4 separate regions of the Homo sapiens genome follow, and regions 1, 2 and 3 are each linked to region 4. Evidence: fine-mapped expression QTL. Tissue or cell type: whole blood. Region 4 holds a variant in brackets; each other region holds the start of a gene. Each region is shown on its reference strand, or each on the opposite one. Region 1 holds the start of PDZK1IP1 (PDZK1 interacting protein 1). Region 2 holds the start of SFRP2 (secreted frizzled related protein 2). Region 3 holds the start of DNAJB2 (DnaJ heat shock protein family (Hsp40) member B2). Region 4 has its middle 45 kb from the start of LINC01625.

The links. PIP is the estimated chance that this variant, and not a neighbour inherited with it, causes the effect.
Region 1: PDZK1IP1 starts here. The variant in region 4 is fine-mapped to the expression of PDZK1IP1 in whole blood (TOPMed, PIP 0.95).
Region 2: it holds the start of SFRP2, and the variant in region 4 is fine-mapped to the expression of SFRP2 in whole blood (TOPMed, PIP above 0.99).
Region 3: it holds the start of DNAJB2, and the variant in region 4 is the best candidate, but not a certain one, in a credible set for the expression of DNAJB2 in whole blood (TOPMed, PIP 0.60).

Annotation. Positions count from the first base shown.
Region 1 is chr1:47,187,831-47,192,825 of GRCh38, forward strand. It overlaps PDZK1IP1 (PDZK1 interacting protein 1), which reads right to left and starts at 2,206. Exons shown (of 4, transcript NM_005764.4): 1 at 2,036-2,206. The coding sequence starts at 2,102. RefSeq lists a silencer at 2,487-2,781 and an enhancer at 3,611-4,560.
Region 2 is chr4:153,786,415-153,791,486 of GRCh38, forward strand. SFRP2 (secreted frizzled related protein 2) reads right to left here and starts at 2,669. Exons shown (of 3, transcript NM_003013.3): 1 at 1,920-2,669. The coding sequence starts at 2,421. RefSeq lists enhancers at 2,813-2,982, 2,897-3,598, 3,599-4,300, 4,562-4,731.
Region 3 is chr2:219,276,281-219,281,352 of GRCh38, forward strand. DNAJB2 (DnaJ heat shock protein family (Hsp40) member B2) reads left to right here and starts at 3,086. Exons shown (of 9, transcript NM_006736.6): 1 at 3,086-3,238; 2 at 3,518-3,618; 3 at 4,298-4,407. The coding sequence starts at 3,554. RefSeq lists an enhancer at 1,206-1,910 and silencers at 1,487-1,689, 2,931-3,410.
Region 4 is chr6:139,516,788-139,521,859 of GRCh38, forward strand. No RefSeq gene overlaps it. Among named protein-coding and RNA genes, the nearest start is that of LINC01625, 45 kb to the left of the region's middle. RefSeq lists a cis regulatory region at 1,831-2,307. The variant A/C (reference allele first, on the strand shown) is at 2,769.

The DNA.
Region 1 (4,995 bases), not on the chromosome of region 4:
GCTCCCAGAAGGCTGAGGAGGACCCACAGCTGACAAGACTGGTCTGGGATCTAGAAGATCCTGTTCTGTAGCAAGACGTTTCTCTGATGGTAGGAAGGGTATGAGAGTGGGAGACTCTCAGGGCTGCTCAGCTGGGGAGATCTGGGGTGCCTGGGGTACCCAGAGAGAGGAGTGGACCAGGACATCTTTAGAAGGGCAGAATGGAGGGGTGAACTCTACTCTGGGTCTTGGGGACCAGGAAAGAAGCCTCAAAACCTGAGCTCCTTTTGATTCCCCCAGCTGGGTGCCCAGGGACTAGGGCCAGAGATTAGGTTGAGGCCCCAACCTGCACCCTTCTCTACTTTTTTTATTTTTTAATAGAGACAGGGTCTTACTACGTTGCCCAGGCTGGTCTCAAACTCCTGGGCTCAGGCGAGCCTCTGGCCTTGGCCTCCCAAAGTGCTGGGATTACAGGCATGAGCTACTGCACCAGGTCCCTTCTCTGCTTTTTGACCCTTGACACCAACACAGTCCCTCAAGATTTTCCTGAAGTCCCTGCCTTCAGGCCTCTGCTTCCCCAAAGGACTTTCCTCTTCCCCAGCATCACTGCACTCCATGAGCCTGCAGGAGCTCAGCCTTGTAGAGAAAAGACCCTCAGCGGGGAGAAGTCCCAGGACAAAACACAGGTCAGCAGGGGGCTTCAGAGGGGTCCTGCCTCCAGGCCAGAATATACCTGCATCCCTATATTTTGAGGGACCCAAGCTGGACATGAGAAAACCTTCCTCTGGCTCACTCCTGCTCAAATGTCCTCCTTTGAGTCTACCAAAAGCTCTCCTGCTGCAGTGGAGGCCTGACCTCTTCTCCGAGCCTGGCAAATATTGGGAAGGAGGAAGGAGGCTAGGAACTCTCTGGCCTGTAGTGAGGTCAGACCTCACTTATCTCCAGGGGAAGCAGAAGACACACAGTGTGATTACCCTCAGTTCCACACCTGCCAAAAAGCAGTATTTGGGAGTCATTGTTTCCCTAGGGGTTCAGACTGCTCCCTCAGGTCAGTGGTTGCTCAAGCATGGGGAGTTAGGGCTCAACCCTTGGAGGCCCCTCCCTGTTTCCTCCTAGACCCTGCAGCCAATTCTCTCCAGTCACCCCAGGGACCACAGTCCCTGCTCCTCCTCCCATGCACATACAGCAAGGGGCAGTGTCTGGGGCAGGAGAAAGGTGGTCTGAACCCTGTCCTTTCTTGCCGTGCTCTGTGACTCAACCTCTCTGGTCTGCAGTTCCCCAGAGGGCTTCCAAGACCTGGGAGACAGAGTTGAAGCAGACACACATAAGAGCTCGGGGTGGGGGTGGGAGGGGAGCTCTGAAAGCATCTTTGCCAGTCCCCTCTGGACCAAGTCCCACCTGCAGAGTCCCCAGACTTTGGCTGCAGATGCAGCCTGACAGTGTAGAATGAAAGCCAGACCTTGGGTTAGTTACTTCACCAGGTGCAAAGCCCTTCTTCACCTCTGACCTGGCAGCAGCCCTGGGAGGTGGGCAGGGTGGGGTTTATTGTTCTCATTTTATAGGTGAGAAAACTGAGTCTCAGGAAGGGGCAGTGATTTGCTCAAGGTCACACATCCATTCAGGCAGAGCAGGACGAAGAGGTCAGATATTTGGGGGAGTCACACTGGGCACTGTTCTCTATCCAAGCCCAAGAGGCCGAGACAAAGCCCAAGTCTTTGAGGGGTGGCTTGGGCCCCACTCTCACCCTACTTGTACCCCCGGGTCCCCTGTACTCAGGACCCAGCCATCCCTTGGGCAATGCCTGCTCTTGGGGCTTGGGCCTCAAATCCTGTTCCTCCCTGAGATCCTAGAACCAACTGCTGCCAGTTTTCACTCGTTGAAAACAAGTGACAGGCAGAGACTTGGTTCAGAGGTCTCTGCCTTGGGACATTCTTTCAGCTAGCGCAGTCCCTGCTCCCCCTCCAAACTGTAAGTATCAAGGCCCTGGGGAGGGGAGCCAGAACACCACCTGTCCACCCCTGGGTCTCCCGTGCCCAGCCCTCTCCTCCTGAGCTACCTTGCTGACAGCTGGCAGGTGGCACTGCCGTGAGCAGGCCCAGAATGAGGAGGCTGAGGGCCGACATGGCTGCAGCAGCTCCTAGCCTTGCTTCTGGCCGCCGGTGTCTGGGCTCCTGGAGCTGCTGTGGAGTCTATTGGTGTCCGCCTGAAATCAACCTGGGCTCAGTCTGGCCCTGGAGGAGAGGAGCTAGGAAGGAGGAAGGCGAGGGAGGGAGGAGACACGAAGACGGGCGTCGGAGAGAACGTGCCCTCCCTCCCATGGTAATGAGCTGCCAGACCTGGCCTCCCCTGGCTGGTGCCCAGCTCACTTGGGCTGGCATTCGAGGTCATCTTCCAGGGGCCAGCTAAGGAGGTGGGTATGAGGAACAAGCAGATGTGGGAGAGTCCCAGCCTCACCTCCATGCCCTGAGCTCCCTTTTCCTGGCAGTGGGGCTGGATTCTAGGGAAAGGGGTGACACACAGTCGCTCCTGCCTTGACTGAGCCCAGTGGGCGGGGCTTCTTGGAAGGCTGACAGTGGGATTAAGAAATGTCCTGGCTGGCTCAGGAGCCTGGGGAAAACCCCAGAAGCCCAGAGAAGGCTCAAAGCTGCCAGACTCCGCCGAGAGCCTGGCCTATTTCCTGTTCTCCCCACCACCTGCCCCTGCCCCGCCAAGCTAAACTCTGGGACTCTAATGCTGGGACACACTACGGCTTCAGTGCCTTCCACGCCCTGGCCCAGCCCAGTAGCTTCCTAAATCCACCCCCTTCTGCAAAGATCTCAATAGAGGGCCTGAAGGTCCCAGTCCCCAGCTTTCACAGCCCATGCCCAGGCCCTGACCCAGCACAGCTAACCTAGTCCCAGTTCGGTTCTTCCTCTTGGCCCCAGATGTGGTCCCTGGAAACCGGGCAGGGCCTCAAAACAAGATACAGCCTTGGTCAGAGGCTTCAACACCCAACTTCAGATCCATCTCCACCCATGGCAGAGGAGAAAATGGGCAAACACAGCCTGCTGTGGGGGACAAAGGACGGACACCCCAGATGGCAAGGTGCGATCTGGGGCCCTGAAGCCCTGGGCCCGTCACCCTCATAGCCAAAAGCAGCATTGAGGAAGGCACACCTAGCCCCTGGAACAGGGAGGCCCTGGAGCCAGAGCCCTCGGAAGAGGCAAAAGCCTCCCCAGGATCACGTGGTGTCCACCTGGCCCTCCAGCTCAGGGAATGAGAATGGCCAGAGTTCCTGTGCAAGCCCCTGACCAAGGGTCATGCTGGTCTCCTTGCCCCACCCCCCACCCCAGAAGTATGGGAAGCTGAGATGCTGACTCCCTAGAAAGGAGCGGGCCAACTGGAACAAAGTCTCATCAGAGATGGAAGGTCCCCAGGAGCCAGCACCTGAGCTGAAGGCACCTCCACAGCCTCTCTTCCCTGAAGCCACCAAACTCCTATTCATCAGGCCTCCTGGGCAACCCTTCCTATGGCAGGTTGATTCTGCCTTCCTGCTCCAGCGGGAGCACTCAGACATCATGCCTCAGGCCTGCTTCCTGTGTGTGTGTGTGTGTGTGTGTGTGTGTGTGTGTGTGTGTGTGTGTGTGGTGTGTGTGGGTGTGTGTGTGTGTGTTCACATGCGTGTGCAGTCGGGCCCATTGCCATCCAAAGATGGAGTGTCTCAAGGTGATCTGGGAGAACTTTGCTTGGAGTTGAGTGATGCCTCCCAAACATGTATATCCTGGCCTCCCTCCCACACCCAACTTGGTGTCCTCAGAATCTTCTAACACAGACTGGAGTAAGCACTGTGCATGTTAATGAACAGCCAGAGAATCACTGATTGGAATGTAAGGAATGGGGCTGAATTTAACAAACATCTACTGGTGCCTTCTCCAAGAATTTTAGGGAGGAGAGTCACATGGTTAGTTTTGCGTTTGGGAAAACACCTCTCCATGCAGTGTGGAGAGTGAAAGGGGCATGCAAAGGCTGGAGAAGAGAAATCCAGGGATCTGCTACAGTGGCCACAACACCAGTGCCTGGACCTGGGCAGGAAGTGCCCATGGGAACAGATCTGAGCCCTGTTGAGGAGGTAGAGAAGCCGGGGTGTGGCTGCTGGAACACAGTGCCAAGCTGGGAGAATGGGTACAGGCAGGAGGCAGGGCTTCAGGTGACTCCCAGGTTTCTGGCGTAGGCAGCTGGGTAGATGCTAGTGCCTCAGTAGGGGCCAGAGCAAGTTTGGGGGGTTGGAGGATTAATGAGCTATAGATTTTGAGGTATTATGCTTGCAGTGCCTGTGGACTTTCCAGAGGGAGACATCTGGAAGGCTGCAAAATCCCTGCATCTGGAGTGGAACATCTGGGAGCCGTCTGCAGCACAGGGATGGTAACTGAGGCCTGGGAGCTCATGGTCTCCCCAGTGTGTGTAGCGGGGGTAGGGGTGTTGAGGGGAGAGCACAGAAAGAAGGAGACACGCCCCCAACACACAAAGGTCTTTCAAAGGAAGAAGGGGCAGGAGGAAACAGGAGGAAGCAACCCCAGGAAAGTGGGGTATCCCAGGAGCCAAGCAAGGACAGACTTAAGGAGGGTGGGGGGGTCACAGCTGTGCCACCCCCTCCAACCAGTGCCCTCAGCACTCAAGTCCCAGGTTCTGCCTTCCCCACCCCAGTATCCTCCACTTCCCTGAAAAACCCAGGGAAAGGAAAGGATCCCCTGGGCTATGCTTTGGGAGTGGTGGGGGAAGGGGATGAACAGGAAGGACACCAGGTGATCAACAGGAGGAAAACATACCTCCTGGGTCAAAGTCCCAAGCTTTAGAGCAAAACAAGTTGTTCCAGAAAAGAGGGAGCATGGGTGGACACTTGGCTTTGAGGCTGGTCCCTCCTCCCTGGAGGTCTTCACACGGGTGGAGGGTCATCTCCCCAGCTGTATGGACACAGCCCTGATCCCCATGGTAACAAGGTGGGCCCCCCTACTGGTCTGGCTGGGGCCCAGGGTCTGG
Region 2 (5,072 bases), not on the chromosome of region 4:
TCTTTCTCAGCCACAGGACACCAGTGTAGTTGGCTCTACTCGGCAGAGCTCTGTATCTCAGGGGGGCCAAGTCTGGACTGGGAGGGGTGACTGGCTAGCGTTCCACATGTGGGCTGTTTCCACCTTGAAAACACATCTCACTAATTACAACAGCCTGCTCTAAGTGGTTCTGTGTCACCTTGTGCCTCTGCCAAGATTGTGCTTGAGTTAGGCAGCATTCATTTCATTGTTATCTGCAAGCTCCCTGGTACAGGTTCTTCTTGCCCTTCTGTGCCTGTTTCAAACTCTCAAAACAAACAAATAAATAAACCTGTTTCTGAAGCTAATCAAAGACGAAGCAAAAATGGTTTAGTGGTCTGATCAAACTTAGGGATTGTATACTAGCACAATTATCAGAAGACCTGCTAAAAGCTCTTCTAAGAGTTTGATTTCTTGGGAGAAGTAAAAAAAAAAAAAAAAGAACAATTATATTGCCCTTCTCTCATTTATAAATGTGTTAATTATGTCTTTAAAATTTAGGTGAAATGAGATTTTCACTAATGTGAAATTTAATGTTCATAGAAAACTATGTGACTTAATAGAAGCGTTATTTATCAAATTAGAAAAATCACAAAGCTGGAATTTTGAAGAACATAAACTTTTATTTTGAAGGAGAAAAGTGGCTTTTTGGAGAAATGTAAGATGCGTAATGTTGCTGCTGATAGTGGGAAGAAATAAAAGCAACATACATAAAACTGCCCTTAAGTCCCCTCACCCAAACAAAATCAAACATTTCCAATTAGGAGCTCTCAGGATGTATATAAAATATTACTAACCTGTATTGGTTGGTCTATGGTACATGTTGGACAAATGTTTGAAAAATGCCAAACATTTGCAATAAATTAGAAATCTAACCAATAAGATGATTGCAAACTCATGGTCCCTGCCAGGAAAGATTGCTAAAGAACTTTGCATTTGCTTTAACTAATGATGTCTGTAGGAAAACTACTAGAGATTGAAAGGGAGAGGCTGCTGAAGCCCTGAAAGGGATTAGGAAGCTCCCTTTTCCAACCCAGGGGACCCAAATCAGCTCAGAGGCATTGTATATGTTTTCCTTTCAGAAAAAATATTGAGAGCCCATGAGGTTTTCATTGCTTTGATGGTTTTTGCACAGGAACTCTCCCTCCGTTTTCTAAAAACTTGGGAATCTCTTTTGCATGATTTTCTCCAGCTAATCAAAACCACTCCTAAGTTAAAAACTGATAGCAATAGAAAAGTGATTTCCAGAGATTCCCTTTATGCCCTCTTCCTCAAGTATCTGAGCAGTTACAACCAATGTTCAATTTTCCACACACTCCGTGCCAGTCCCGGTTTTATTTCCAAAATCTAAATTGACAAAGGACAAAAAGACCCTTAAAAGGTTATCTACTTGTGCATCCTGGTTTTCCTTTCTGTACAGGAAATGTTCCTGTGACTAGAATCCTGCCCAGTGGTAGGAAGGTGCAGAATGAGGCTGAGCGAGGGGCCTCTGGCCAGAATGCTCACCACAAACTCCTCCACCAAACACCACTTCCAACGCTCTGCGCAGCTCCAGTGCTAGCATCTTTAACAATAATCGTGTATCTATTTTTTTTTAAACCGCCGTTCAGTTCTTCGTTTTTTTAGTTTTGTTGTTTTTGTTTGTTTGTTTTATTTTTAAACTGCCCTTAAGTATAGCTGGTACAACTCGGGAGGAGAATGCGCGAGACTTGGGCGGCGTGGGAGGGGTGCCTCAAATTTGATACAGGCTTGTTGTGATGACAGACCAGGTCAGGCAGAACTTCTGCCCTTCCCGCTACTGGCACCCCAAGCAGGGATGCACTGGGATGCGTGGCAGGGGCGGGATCTCCTGGGAGCGTCTCAGCCCAGCAGGGAGTGGGGAAGCAAGAGGGAAGGCTTACCTTCCTCGGTGGCTGGCAGGAGGTGGTCGCTGCTAGCGAGGGGGATGCAAAGGTCGTTGTCCTGGGGGAAACGGTCGCACTCAAGCATGTCGGGCCAGGGGAAGCCGAAGGCGGACATGACCGGGGCGCAGCGGTCCTTCACCTGCACGCAGAGCGAGTGGCATGGCTGGATGGTCTCGTCTAGGTCATCGAGGCAGACGGGGGCGAAGAGCGAGCACAGGAACTTCTTGGTGTCCGGGTGGCACTGCTTCATGACCAGCGGGATCCAAGCGCCGGCCTGCTCCAGCACCTCCTTCATGGTCTCGTGGCCCAGCAGGTTGGGCAGCCGCATGTTCTGGTATTCGATGCCGTGGCACAGCTGCAGGTTGGCAGGGATGGGCTTGCAATTGCTGCGCTTGTAGGAGAAGTCGGGCTGGCCAAAGAGGAAGAGCCCGCGCGCCGAGCCCAGGCAGCAGTGCGAGGCGAGGAAGAGCAGCAGCAGCGAGCCAGGGCCCTGCAGCATCGTGGGCGCGCGACCCCGAGGGGGCAGAGGGAGCGGAGCCGGGGAAGGGCGAGGCGGCCGGAGTTCGAGCTTGTCCCGGGCCCGCTCTCTTCGCTGGGTGCGACTCGGGGCCCCGAAAAGCTGGCAGCCGGCGGCTGGGGCGCGGAGAAGCGGGACACCGGGAGGACAGCGCGGGCGAGGCGCTGCAAGCCCGCGCGCAGCTCCGGGGGGCTCCGACCCGGGGGAGCAGAATGAGCCGTTGCTGGGGCACAGCCAGAGTTTTCTTGGCCTTTTTTATGCAAATCTGGAGGGTGGGGGGAGCAAGGGAGGAGCCAATGAAGGGTAATCCGAGGAGGGCTGGTCACTACTTTCTGGGTCTGGTTTTGCGTTGAGAATGCCCCTCACGCGCTTGCTGGAAGGGAATTCTGGCTGCGCCCCCTCCCCTAGATGCCGCCGCTCGCCCGCCCTAGGATTTCTTTAAACAACAAACAGAGAAGCCTGGCCGCTGCGCCCCCACAGTGAGCGAGCAGGGCGCGGGCTGCGGGAGTGGGGGGCACGCAGGGCACCCCGCGAGCGGCCTCGCGACCAGGTACTGGCGGGAACGCGCCTAGCCCCGCGTGCCGCCGGGGCCCGGGCTTGTTTTGCCCCAGTCCGAAGTTTCTGCTGGGTTGCCAGGCATGAGTGGGAGAGGGTGTGTGTGTGTGTGTGTGTGTGTGTGTGTGTGTGTGTGTGTGTGTTGGGGGGCTGCGTCCCTGGTAGCCGCGTGTGCCCTGTGATGGAGCCCGGGACCTGCCCGCCCGAGGCCGCCTCGGCGAACTTCGTTTTCCCTCGAATCTCCAGCCACCGTTCAGCAGCCTGTCGGTGTGCTCCCCAATGCCGTAAAAAAATCAGAATTATAAATATATTCGTATGAGCAGAACTTTACATGGAAAACGAAATACTAATAAAATGGGCTTGTTATTCTGTTGGAGTGAGTGCCTAGGAAGGGTTTCGTCGTTGTAGAAACGCCCCTACAAGAGTCTCACCAGTCACACAGGACTGCCCACCATTTCCCCGTTTTGGAGAGATTTTTCCTTCTTAAATGAATGGCATGACTCAATACTCGAAGGCATCACGGGCTCTAACACACAGCCGCCCTTGCAGCTGTGCGCTCTGGAAAGCTGGAGTATGGGCCCCCAGGGCACTGTTTGTAAAGACTGGTGGCCGGCACAAAAGACGGGCACAAAAGATGGGCAGGCTGGGAGGGAGCGAGGTAGAGGAAGGAGTCCTGCCTAGAGATCCACGAGGGCTAGAATTAGCTCATTCATCCCCTACGTACCAGGGGGCACCATGCTGGGCGCTGGATGTGCAGAAATGAACAAACAGGCCGGCCTCTGCTCTCGTGGAGCCTGGGATCTAGTGTCTCTGACTGCAAACAGTAAGTTCTGGGTTGGGGGGTGGGCTCCTTTTGCCTAATTGTCCCTAGTCTCCCTATGGGGACAGGAGGCCTTCGCTCTCCTCAGCCGCTGTCTCCGGGTGGCTGTGAAGATCCAAAGAGATAATCCCCGGAGGGCGAAGTTCTTTCATATGTAAGGTGGGCGCATTGTTATTACTTCCCGACCACTTAAGAGTCATTCACAGGCTCAGACCCCGGCTTCCTAATTTCCCTCCTTCCGGAAGATGCGTTGGCCTTGGCGGCTCCCAGGCCCAAGTTATCAGGCACACTTTGCGGTCCAGCTGCTTAGAGGAGCCGGGTAATGAATGAATGGGTGGCAAAAGCCCACTCAGTGTTATCTGCTGACCGTAAACACGCCAGGAAAATCGTCATCTGGAGAGAATGCACATTCTGAACTCCAAGAATCTGCGTCCCTAAGAGCCCAGCTTCCGGGTGCTCTGCTGGGGAAGGGCCCGGGGTAGCTGCAAAAGGCCTCTCTTTCCCCAAATTGGTTCAGGGCCTTTTCGTCTCTAACGAAAGCACCAAGAGGCCTAAAAGCCCCCTTCCCAACATAAACTACTTTGCAATGAAACCACAAAGGAAACAGAAGCACACCAAAAGAAAGAGCTAATAAAGAGCGTGAGCTCTGAGAGATGCTACGACTTGGGCCTGGGAGTGGGATAAGGGCCCTCTCGCTTTCACGCCCCCCCAACCCCCCGCCGGCCCCGGCCAACCCCTAAATCCCCAACGCCCTCCGCTGGGGTCGCCTCCTCCCCGCAGAGCCCCTTGTTGGGAGTTCAAGGAGCCCGAAGCTGGTCTGGCTGGTTTGAGCCCCGCGCTGCCGCACGCCCGGAAGTGGCTGGCGGCCCCCGCGCTCCGCGCGCCGGCTGCATTGTTTTGGGAGCCCTCGCTGCCCGGCTTGCCGCCAGGAGGTGCTGGGAGTCGCGCCTGAGTCTCCATCCCTGCCGTGCGCAGTGTCCACCTCTGGCCAGCTTGTTTGCCCGGCCCGCGGCGTCCCCTGCGGCCCATCGCTGCTCCTCCCGGAACCCACGCCACTTAGTCTGGTCCCGACCCTGCACTCGCTGCTGCTGCCTTTCCCACCTCAAGTCGCTCTCCCCACTCCCTTCTGCTTTTGGGCTAAGACCGGTCCAATTGATCACTGGGGAACAGGGCAATAACCTCCCGCGGAGGCTGGGACGCGGGCACGGAGCTCTGCCCATATGAGCAGCGCAGGGATGGGACACTGGGTGCCCATCCC
Region 3 (5,072 bases), not on the chromosome of region 4:
AGCCAAGATTGCACCATTGCACTCCAGCCTGGGCAATAAGAGTGAAACTCTGCCTCAAAAAAAAAAAAAAAAAAAAAGTCACATCAAATTACCCACCCTCCCACTACCAATCTATAAGAATGCCTGTGCCCTCAGCCTTGCCCATACAATGTATTCAACTTTTTTCTTTTTTTTGTCTTTGTCAATCATCCAATAAGTGAAACAAAGTATTTTGTTAGGGCCATGTGCCCGGGTGCAGTGGCTCTGGCCTATAGTCCCAGCACTTTGGGAGGCTGAGGCAGGAGGATCATCTGAGGCCAGGAGTTTGAGACCAGTCTGGCCAACATGGTGAAACCCCATCTCTACAAAAAATACAAAAATTAGCCAGGGGTGGTGGCACATGCCTGTAATCCCAGCTACTTGGGAGGCTGAGGCAGGGGAATTGCTTGAACCTGGGAGGTTGCAGTGAGCCAAGATAGTGCCACTGCACTGGAGCCTGGATGACAGAGCAAGACTCCATCTCAAAAAACAAAACCCCAAAGTATTTTGTTGTAGCTTTATTATTATTATTCTTTTAAAAATTATTATTATTTGAGATGGAGTTTCACTCTTGTTGCCCAGGCTGGAGTGCAATGGCACGATCTTGGCTCACTGCAACCTCCGCCTCCCGGGTTCAAGTGATTTTCCCGTCTCAGCCTGCCGAGTAGCTGGGATTACAGGCATGTGCCACCACGCCTGGCTACTTTTTGTATTTTTGGTAGAGACAGGGTTTCACCATATTGGCCAGGCTGATCTGAAACTCCTGACCTCAGGTGATCTACCCGCCTTGGCCTCCCAAAGTGCTGGGATTACAGGCATGAGCCACCATGCCTGGCCTGTCGTAGCTTTAGTTTACAGTTTTTTTGTGAATGAGATTGAGCATCTTTTCATTTGTTTAAAAGCCAGTATTTCCTCTTCTGTGAGCTGCCTGTCCCTTTGTCCATTTAAAAATGTCATTGTCTTTCATTAGTTGGCATTTCTTTGTGGACAAAGGAAATTAAACCTTTGTCTGCTAGATGTGCTCCATATAATTTCCCTCAGTTGTCATTTGTCTATGTCCTATCCCCTTGAGCACAGAGATTGGAATTTAAACTTTTTTATATTCTTTTTCTTAATATAACAAGACATACACGGTAGGTGCTAGACAAATGTCTGTTGGCACAGCAGAGTAAGAAGAAAAAGGCAGAGATCTGGAAAATTTGGAGTGACTTAACCCAACCACTCCTTCCTCTTATACCAAGTCTAACCCTTAGTCTTTGTGTCAGTCAGGACTCTTATAAACAGCAGAAGCTAACTGGCAAATTGTTTCAAGTCCCCTGCCCCCAACAATTATAGAGATATCGGATAGCACACAGAATCAATGCAAGGGCCAGCAAACAAGGGTCAGCAATCAGACAGGCACCTAGGGAAGCTGGGCAGCCAGTACCACAGTCAAGGTTGGGCACAGGACAGCCTGTGTAGGAGACTCCTGTCCCCTCCACCCTCCGCAGTGATCCTCCTACTCTCGTCCCTCACCTGCGGCAGTAGCGCTGACACTTCCTCCTCCAGACACTAGAGGCCGCTGTTGGCCCCATCGCCTCCACCGCCGCCGCAGAAATGAATTCCTAAACCAGCCTTGCTATTCCGTGACTTGCTCCAGATTCAAAGTCCCAGTTGGAGCATCCGATTGGCGGAGCTCATGTCTTCTGCCTGCAACCCCAGAGCCGAGTCAGGGAGAGCAAGCATTGGGGCTTTGTGGCAAATGGTGGCCTGCTTTCCATTAGGGCCCTTGCGATGGGAATTCCCCAAATGTAGGCAGGAGGTTCTGATGGTGGGCAGCCAGGAAACCAGGACACTCACACCACCTTCTTCTCTCACGTCCGCCTCAAACCCTTCTCGTTGGCGAAGTATTCCTGGGTCCCCCAGCCTAAAGCACTTTTCTGGACTCACATAACCATTATTGCTTGAGCCAATCACGATGCCAGCAGGACCGCAGTAACACCTAATTCGTACCATGTCTCATTTGACTTTCAAACAACCCTAGGCACTACCTATATTTAGTGAGAAAAAAAGAGTGCTCAGAGATTTTCCCAAGTCTCACAGTAATGCCAGGTTGTACTCTGTTTCCAAAGCCTCGGGTTTCCCAGCGGGCTACACTGATGGGCTGGTATCTTATCAAGTTCAAGCTCTGCAAAGGCAGGGCTTGGGCCACATTCTTCTTTATACGGCCTGGCAGCATCTTGAATGCAGAAAAATGCTCAGCTAACGCCTTTGGATTGGCCTGGATGGGATCAAGCAGGAGCCAGTTCTGGAAGGTTTCCTAACTCTCCAATGAGGCCTGAACCCAGGGAGCATTTTGAAGTGGAATAGGCCTACTCAGGATCAGTTTGGGAAGACTTGAACCTGGGGAATTCCGTTGTACGGCCCCCTTTACCTCACCTCCCCCAAATGTGTCAAAACTGTCAACAAGAGGTTTGCAGGTGTTCATTATTTATTCATCCCACGGGTAGTTTTGAACCCCTACGACTGCTCTAATAGACCAGTGAGAAAAAACACACAATTCCTGTCCTGTGAAATCGACATTCTAGTGGGGGAGGTGAATGGTAATAAAAAATAATCAAACCAATAAATGCTAATTTGTGGCTCTAACAAGCCTGATGAAGGAAATGCCACGAGATGCTGTAAAAGGCAGTTCTGACCTACTCAGGAAAGCCAGGGCAGCCTGCTGGGGGACCTGGGGCTGGAGCTGGGAGCTGAAGAAGGGGGAGGAGTTAGAACCGTGGTGGGGGGAGGGAGGGAAGAGTCTGAGTCCTCGAGGTGGGTGAGTAAGCATGGATCATCGCTCATGTTTATAAGAAAGTGACAGAGGAACCTGGGGGCCGAGCGGCTTGTTTGTGGGCTGCCCCAGCCTCCGTGCGAGCGCTTCTCGCTTGGATGGAGGCGGGGCCGCAGTCTCCCAGGTCCCAGCTGGGGCTGACGTCGTCCTGGTGTGTGCCCAAAATAGCCGGCTCCGCCCTCTTCTCCCGGCAGCCCCTGCAGGCCCCCACCCCCCCAGGGGACAGGCGGAGCCGGCCTTCTCCCCGTCTCTAGTAGTTTCCGCACCGCTGACGCATGCCTGCGCGCACAGCTGGGCCGGGCGCGTCCTACGCAGCAGCCGCGAGCCGGGCTGCGGGTGCCAGACGGTTCCCGGCGGGGGGCAGGGGCGGGGCGCCGCAGGAGGCCGGGACTCCTGGCGGAGGAGGTGCGGCCGGGGGCCCGGGTCAGGCTGGGGGCCCTGGATCGGACTGCTGGAGTTGGGGGGCCCCGATAGGGCTCCTGGGCCTGGGCGTCGAGATAGCTCTTGGCCCCGGCCTGCGGGGGCAGATAAGGCTGCCGGAGGGAGCCTAGTCACCGGCCGCAAGCAGAGCCCGGTGTGCTCCGCTTCCAACTGGGAGCGCCTTCCGCCACCCGGGGAGGGGGACTGCTGCAGCCACAGGGTGGGGCTCTTGGTTCTTTCCGCCTGACTCCTTCTCTTCTGCAGCCCCAAGGAGGCCCGCCTGACGACTGACCAGTTGCCATGGCATCCTACTACGAGATCCTAGACGTGCCGCGAAGTGCGTCCGCTGATGACATCAAGAAGGCGTAAGTGCCTCCGTATGCAACAGAAGACCTCTCACCCTCCACCCGCCACCACCATGGGGCACTTCAGAGTGACACCTGTAGGTGTCTGAGGGAACCAGGTCGTTAGAAAGCACTGGGGTGCTTCTTCCGAGTGACACCTGCAGGGAGGAAAGAGACCCCTGGTAGAGTACAAGGAGAACGTCCAGAGAGTGAAGTAGTTAGTTCCTCTGGGAGCTGCACTGTGTTATGGGTTGTTCTCCAGTTGATCTTCCCCTCCTCCTCCTCCTCCTCCTCCTTTCCCCTCCCCTCCCCCTTCCCCCTAGATTTGGGCATTCTCAGGCTGCAGTGCAAAGATGCAGTGCAAAGAGGCTCTATGAGGAGGAGGGGCCGGTGTCCCTGTACTCTTCGAGGCCACATGTGCCCCAACCTTTGCAGCCCCAGTCCAGTGAGCCCTAGGGAGGGGCTAGGGACCCTGGCATTGTATCCGCTTGTACATGTGGTCCCAGCACTGGTGGCGGAGGAGAGAGGGTGGAACTTGATGAAAATATCACAGCAGCGGCAGCCCTAGCAGCTGGGGTGGACTGGGACCCGGGGGTGAAAGGACAGTGATAGGCTAATGGGAAAACAGGTCGTTCGGTTCCTGGGTGGGAAGTGCCTGCATTTGTCCCCCGACTCTCTCCTCTGCACCCACTTTCTGCAGGTATCGGCGCAAGGCTCTCCAGTGGCACCCAGACAAAAACCCAGATAATAAAGAGTTTGCTGAGAAGAAATTTAAGGAGGTGGCCGAGGCATATGAAGTGCTGTCTGACAGTAAGGGCCGGGGTCAGGCAGGACCCAGCACATCACCCCCTACTTCATGCCCCAGCTCACATTTTCTTAAAGCAATGTCTCTGCCACCTAGTTTCCTCTGTGCCTTTTTCCAGCCTGACATTTAAGCTCCCCCCTCCCACAGGGACAGCTCAGTGTCTGCTCCCCAGAGTCTGGTAGGAGTGGCTGGCATGAGACCTGAAAGGGGAAGGAAGCAGGGCAGGTAACTCATGTGAGCTGAGCCTCCTGCGTGCCAGGCATTGGTGGGTGTCATCTCCATGAGTTCTCACAGCCGTCCTATGAGGCAGGTTCTATCACCCCTATTTTACAGGCAAGGAAACTGAGGCTGAGAGAGGTGAAGTAACTTGCTCAAGGCCACGCAGAGCTGGAATATGAATCCAGGTCTGCCTTTTTATTGATTCATTCGAAAAGTAATTCAGTGAATGGTGACAGTGTCCGGCACTCGCTGGGTGCTGGGGAAACTGGAGGACAAGCAGGCACTGTCTTTGCCCAGAGGGGCAGGGAAGACCAACACCTACCAGGCACACACACAGACACAGTTACAGCTTGTGAAGAGTATTCCGAGGGAAGAAACAGGGCAGGTGGAGTGCTAGGGAATAATGTGCACTTGCTTTAGTTCTGGTGGTTGTAGAAGGCCTCTCCGAGAA
Region 4 (5,072 bases):
TGCTTTAGGAAGAAATATAACAAAACACAAACTCAGAAACGAGCTTGATTCCTGGAAGAGTCACCTAGGGAAACAATGCAAATCCAAAGCATTTTTTAACTCCTTTAAAAACAGCCTTTCATGAATAGTTTTGGTTGCACGTGTGAAAATTCTTTATTTTATTGATATTTCTCATTTTCCATCAAAATTAATTTATCATATTGGGGGAAAAAAAAAACCCCACAGGCTTTAGAGAGTCAAAGACCTGCATCAAATCTAACTTCCGCTAGATTGTACTTTTATGATCTTGGAAAGTGCTTAATGAGTTTTGATTTACTCATCCAAGAAATGGGAAACTTTTAACAAAAAGATTCATGTCCTGGATCTAGTGGTTCTACTTCTAGGAAATTATCTGATGGGAACGATCATAAAAATCCACAAAGTTTTATCTATGAAGAATGTTCCTTTGCAGCATTGAAATATTGGAATTGTGTGAGTAGACTATGATATATCCACAAACAGGAATACCAAATAGGGAGTAAAGATTTTTGTGGAAGAAATTTAGTGACATGAAAAATTGTTCACAATATAATAGTAAGTGAAAAATTATAAGGTTATACACATTGTTATTAATTTTTGGGGAAAATGTATTCTTATGCTTACCCATAGAAGAAACACTAGGTAGATAAGCGCAGTAATATCAGTAGTGATTCGATGTGGGTAAGTGGGACACTGAAGCAGCTTTGGTCTCTACTCTTCAAGATTTTTCAACCTTCCTTCAATAACATGTGCTAATTTTATAATTATTAAATATATATCAAATAGGGACATTAATATTCACCTTATAGATTTGTGTTAAGAATTAAATTAGGTGAGATGATTCATGAAAAACAGTTTAGTGCCTAGCATTTAATTGGTGTTTTTGATTATTTTTATCCAGTTTAATCAGTCATCATGGACTTAGCTCAAAATGATTTTTTTGACTTGAAACAAAACCAAAAATACTACCCTTTAACTGGTGAAAATTTATCACCGTTAAGGATATTCAAAAAAAAAATGCACCGTAAGCTATGAAGGCAATTTCAAAAGAGATGTTTCTGAAATGCCTTGAGCAATGAGAGAGACAATGAAATAAGCAATTAAACTTAAGGTGACTACTTTGCAGCATTTATTTGGACCTAGAAGCTTTGGTTTGTTTGTTTAAAAAACCTGTCATTACTATAGCCACATTGGGTACACGGATAGACGGAACAATATCTAACTCAAAGCGGGTAATTAGTCTGTCAAGATAAATGCCCCCTCTTCTTCAAGCTGATAAAAAGTATCTTGTCAGGGCCTCTTGTGTCATCCCCCAAACACTGTGCGTAAGCCCTGCTGTTTTCTCTTGCAACACGCTTCATCCTGCAGAAATGCAGAGGGAAGCTTTTTGTGGGTATGGTTGGTTGAAAGACAGTTCATATTACCCCTATCTCCTTTCCTGGACTGTATATCTCTGGGGTGCTATGACCTTCTCCCCCCCCCAGGGCACATGTGCACTTGCGCGCAGGCACACACACACACACACACACACACACAAATATGTATACCCAGGGCCGGGCGTGGTGGCTCACGCCTGTAATCCCAGCACTCTGGGAGGTCAAGGCGGGCAGATCACCTGAGGTCAGGAGTTCAAGACCAGCTTGGCCAACATGGTGAAACCCCGTCTCTACAAAAATTAGCCAGGTGTGGTGGTGGGCGCCTGTAATCCCAGCTACCTGGGAGGCTGTGGCAGAAGAATCGTTTGAACCCAGGAGGCAGAGGTTGCAGTGAGCCGAGATCGTGCCATTGCACTCCAGCCTGGGCGACAGAGCGAGAGTCTGTCTCAAAAACAAACAAACAAACAAACAAAAAAACAAAAAACAAACAGAAAGAAACATGTATACCCACGCACACACAGACATACACACACGGACACACATTCTCCCCCGCCCCCACACACACACCCTCAGAGAGATACCTTATCTCTCTGGCTCTCATACACACTCCTACTTTCCCCTCTCCTCGCCTATCGATCTCCTCTCCCCTGTGCTGAGTTAGAAGCTCCTCCTATTATTTTTGTAATCTCTGTTTTAGCATTTCCCATAGAATATTGCAAACATGGAGTGCTTATCTCGCTCTCACACTGGAGTTCCTTGAGCCATCTGCCACTTTTATTAGCCTCTCAGAACGCTCATTTCTTCATCTTAGTGTTCCATTGACAAATGGGAACATAATGCCTCATTTAGAAGTTAGTTGTGGGCATTCCATTGCATAACGGAGGTAGAATTCCTGGCACATGCTAGCCACCCAATAATGGAAGCTATTATTATGATTAATTATATTATTTATTCACTTTTATATCCTGAGGGCCTGGCATAGTGTCTGATGTGTGATGAGTGTAAAATAAATTTCTGGTGAATTAATGAATTAACTCACAAGCTTACAGAATGTGGCTTCAAAATAAAAGAAGAATGTTGTTTTGTAGCGTTTATAGTAGGTGTGAGCGGCAAATCCACGTGCTTCCCCTTCTTACCCCTTTCCCCAAACAACCTATCTGGTGCCAATCCTTGGGAAAAGAAACCGTTACCATCTAGATATAGAAAGCCTATTGACTATTATTTCCATGTAGATATGGCTTAGCAAGGATAAGAGGAATTTTCTCCCTTGATTATCATCTCCTTAGGCTATGTAGTTTATTTCCCAGAGACCGGTCTTCCTTAGCCTTGTTAACCTTTATATGCTTTCTAACTCCAACAAACAATTATTGGCTG[A/C]AATAACCTGATCGAGACACAATCAGCTTCACGGCTGCCTCCAGACTCTACCCGATCTGTTAGCGCTAATCTATTCACCTCTCAGTGTTCACAAAACCTGTTAGCTGATTTGCATTCCACCTCCTATCTTTTCCCTACTTCCTTTGAGGAAGATGTTTGTGAATTATTTTAAGCCAGTTGAATCACTCTGGGAGTTAAGTGCTATTTTAAGCTTTTGAGGAACAGTTGAGAAGGAATGACTTAGGGATGTGAAGCATTTCCCAATAATATCCCACAGAAACTTCAACTTACCAAGTTTGTGGTAAATTTCAGGATATTAAGACACCCTGAAATGGGTCACTGTTCTTGGATACCAGATTCTAAGCTACCCATTGCAAAATGTCTTGTTAAAGCCATGGTGTACGGTGCAAGTGAGATCCACGAGAGGCCATCTGCTGCTTGAGAGAATGTCTTCCTTTCCAGCATCTGAATGCACTGCTTTCCTTGCTGTCTGCCTAGTTGCAGAACTTTGTCTTCTTTTATCAGGACCACTGTCTCTGTGTCCTTGTCAAACTTTTTGTCCCCTAACGGCATCCTCTCCTTCAAATATTGTGCAGCAGATCTAGGGTCCCAGGTGAGTGGACCTCCGTAAGCAGATCACAAGGTGAGCACCCTCTTGAATAATTATTCCACTTGCTTTTATGAACCTTTCCTGAGCCCCCAGCCCACCAGCCAATGTATATTTCCCTACCAAAAAACGCTACCAGTTCCAGGAAGTCTTCCCAGAGTGATAAGAACACATGCTTTATCTTATCTCAACTTTTCTAGACCTCTATGTTGATTGCCGTCATCGCATGTTGACCCTGCTGGCTCCTTATTGGTCACCCTTATATAGAAATCTATGCCTTTGTGATCAACTGTGATGTTGCATTTTGCCATCTGTATGTCCTTATCATGCTGGTTCAAAACATTCTTTTTAGTTGTAGAATGTACCCAGTTAGAATGGAAGGACCGTATTTCTTTTCTTTCTTTTTCTTTTTTTTTTTTTAAGGTGACTAATGAAACACCAAGTCATATAATTATGACTTAATGGATACTTTCTGTTGTTGCTGATGATGAAATGTCCTTTCATATTCAGACTGTATCTTCCTGTAAATCAGGTACAGTGAGTCATGGGGGAACAATGGTGGGATGTTACAGTGATGAAATCTGGAGTCAAATCTTTGTCATTAACGAACTGAAAACTTGGATAGAGTTTTATACAATTTCTTTATATACATGGAGCCAGCTGTCTTTCATTGGTTAGGGGTGAAAATAGGTCCACAGTTTATGGATTATGGAGTTTGGATAAAGATAAGTGATGTTCTGAATCGCCAAGTCTACTCCAAACTTCAGGGAAATCACCACTCCATGCATGAGGAGTGATCTCTTTTGCACTCATTTTTGCACACTGATATTTTTTTTTGCAGTGAAGGTACCAAATTTATACATTCATATGTATATATATTTAAACTGTTTTTCCTTTGATGTGGAATGCTGAGAAAATCTAACACTAAATTTTGGAGATGTTGCTGTAATCTGTAGTTTTTTGGAGGAAGAAAGATGATTGCAGTAATATTTTTGTCACTTCATTACTGTCGTTCCTGTAGTAATTGTCAATGTAGGGGTTTATATTTTATTCAGATTTATCAGTAGGAATATGGGAATAGAGATTTTAAAATTAAGAGCGAGGAGAAACCCAAGAGTGCCTTCGTATTCTAAGTAAGGAAACAGACCCTTTGAAAGGTGACGTGTTTAAGATTAGATGGCTAACGTTGTGCCAACCCAGGCCACCTGCTTCCAGGCCCTGCCGCCCCCATGAGCTCTTGCCACTGAGAATAACATAAGGCAGGGAGATGTTGAGAAGCTCTTGAGTTTTGCCTATTTAGGTAGAAGTCTTCTTGGTGGCTTGCTTGATGCTTTCACATTTACAGAGTGTTCTTGTGGGCATAACCAACACGTGCTTGTATATATGGCACACATGTACTGGCATGTAAAGTAATAAGACACTGTAATGAAAGCTCTTCTTCCAAGTAGTGCCAAACCATCACTAACCTGGCCCATAGGCTTCAGTGAGTAAAGAAAATCAAATGTGGTATCAGCAAATATTTAATGTGGGAAGAAGGCCCTAAGATTGGAAAAGGTGGAGGAAGGACAGATCTTCAGCTTTCTGTGCCTTCCTTTGGCCATGGGATTCCAACAGCTGTGCTCCTGGCTTATTTACAGTGAGAGGTTGTCTTGCTCTTCCTTTCATCCTCTTATTCCCATCCTCCAACTCCTCAAGAG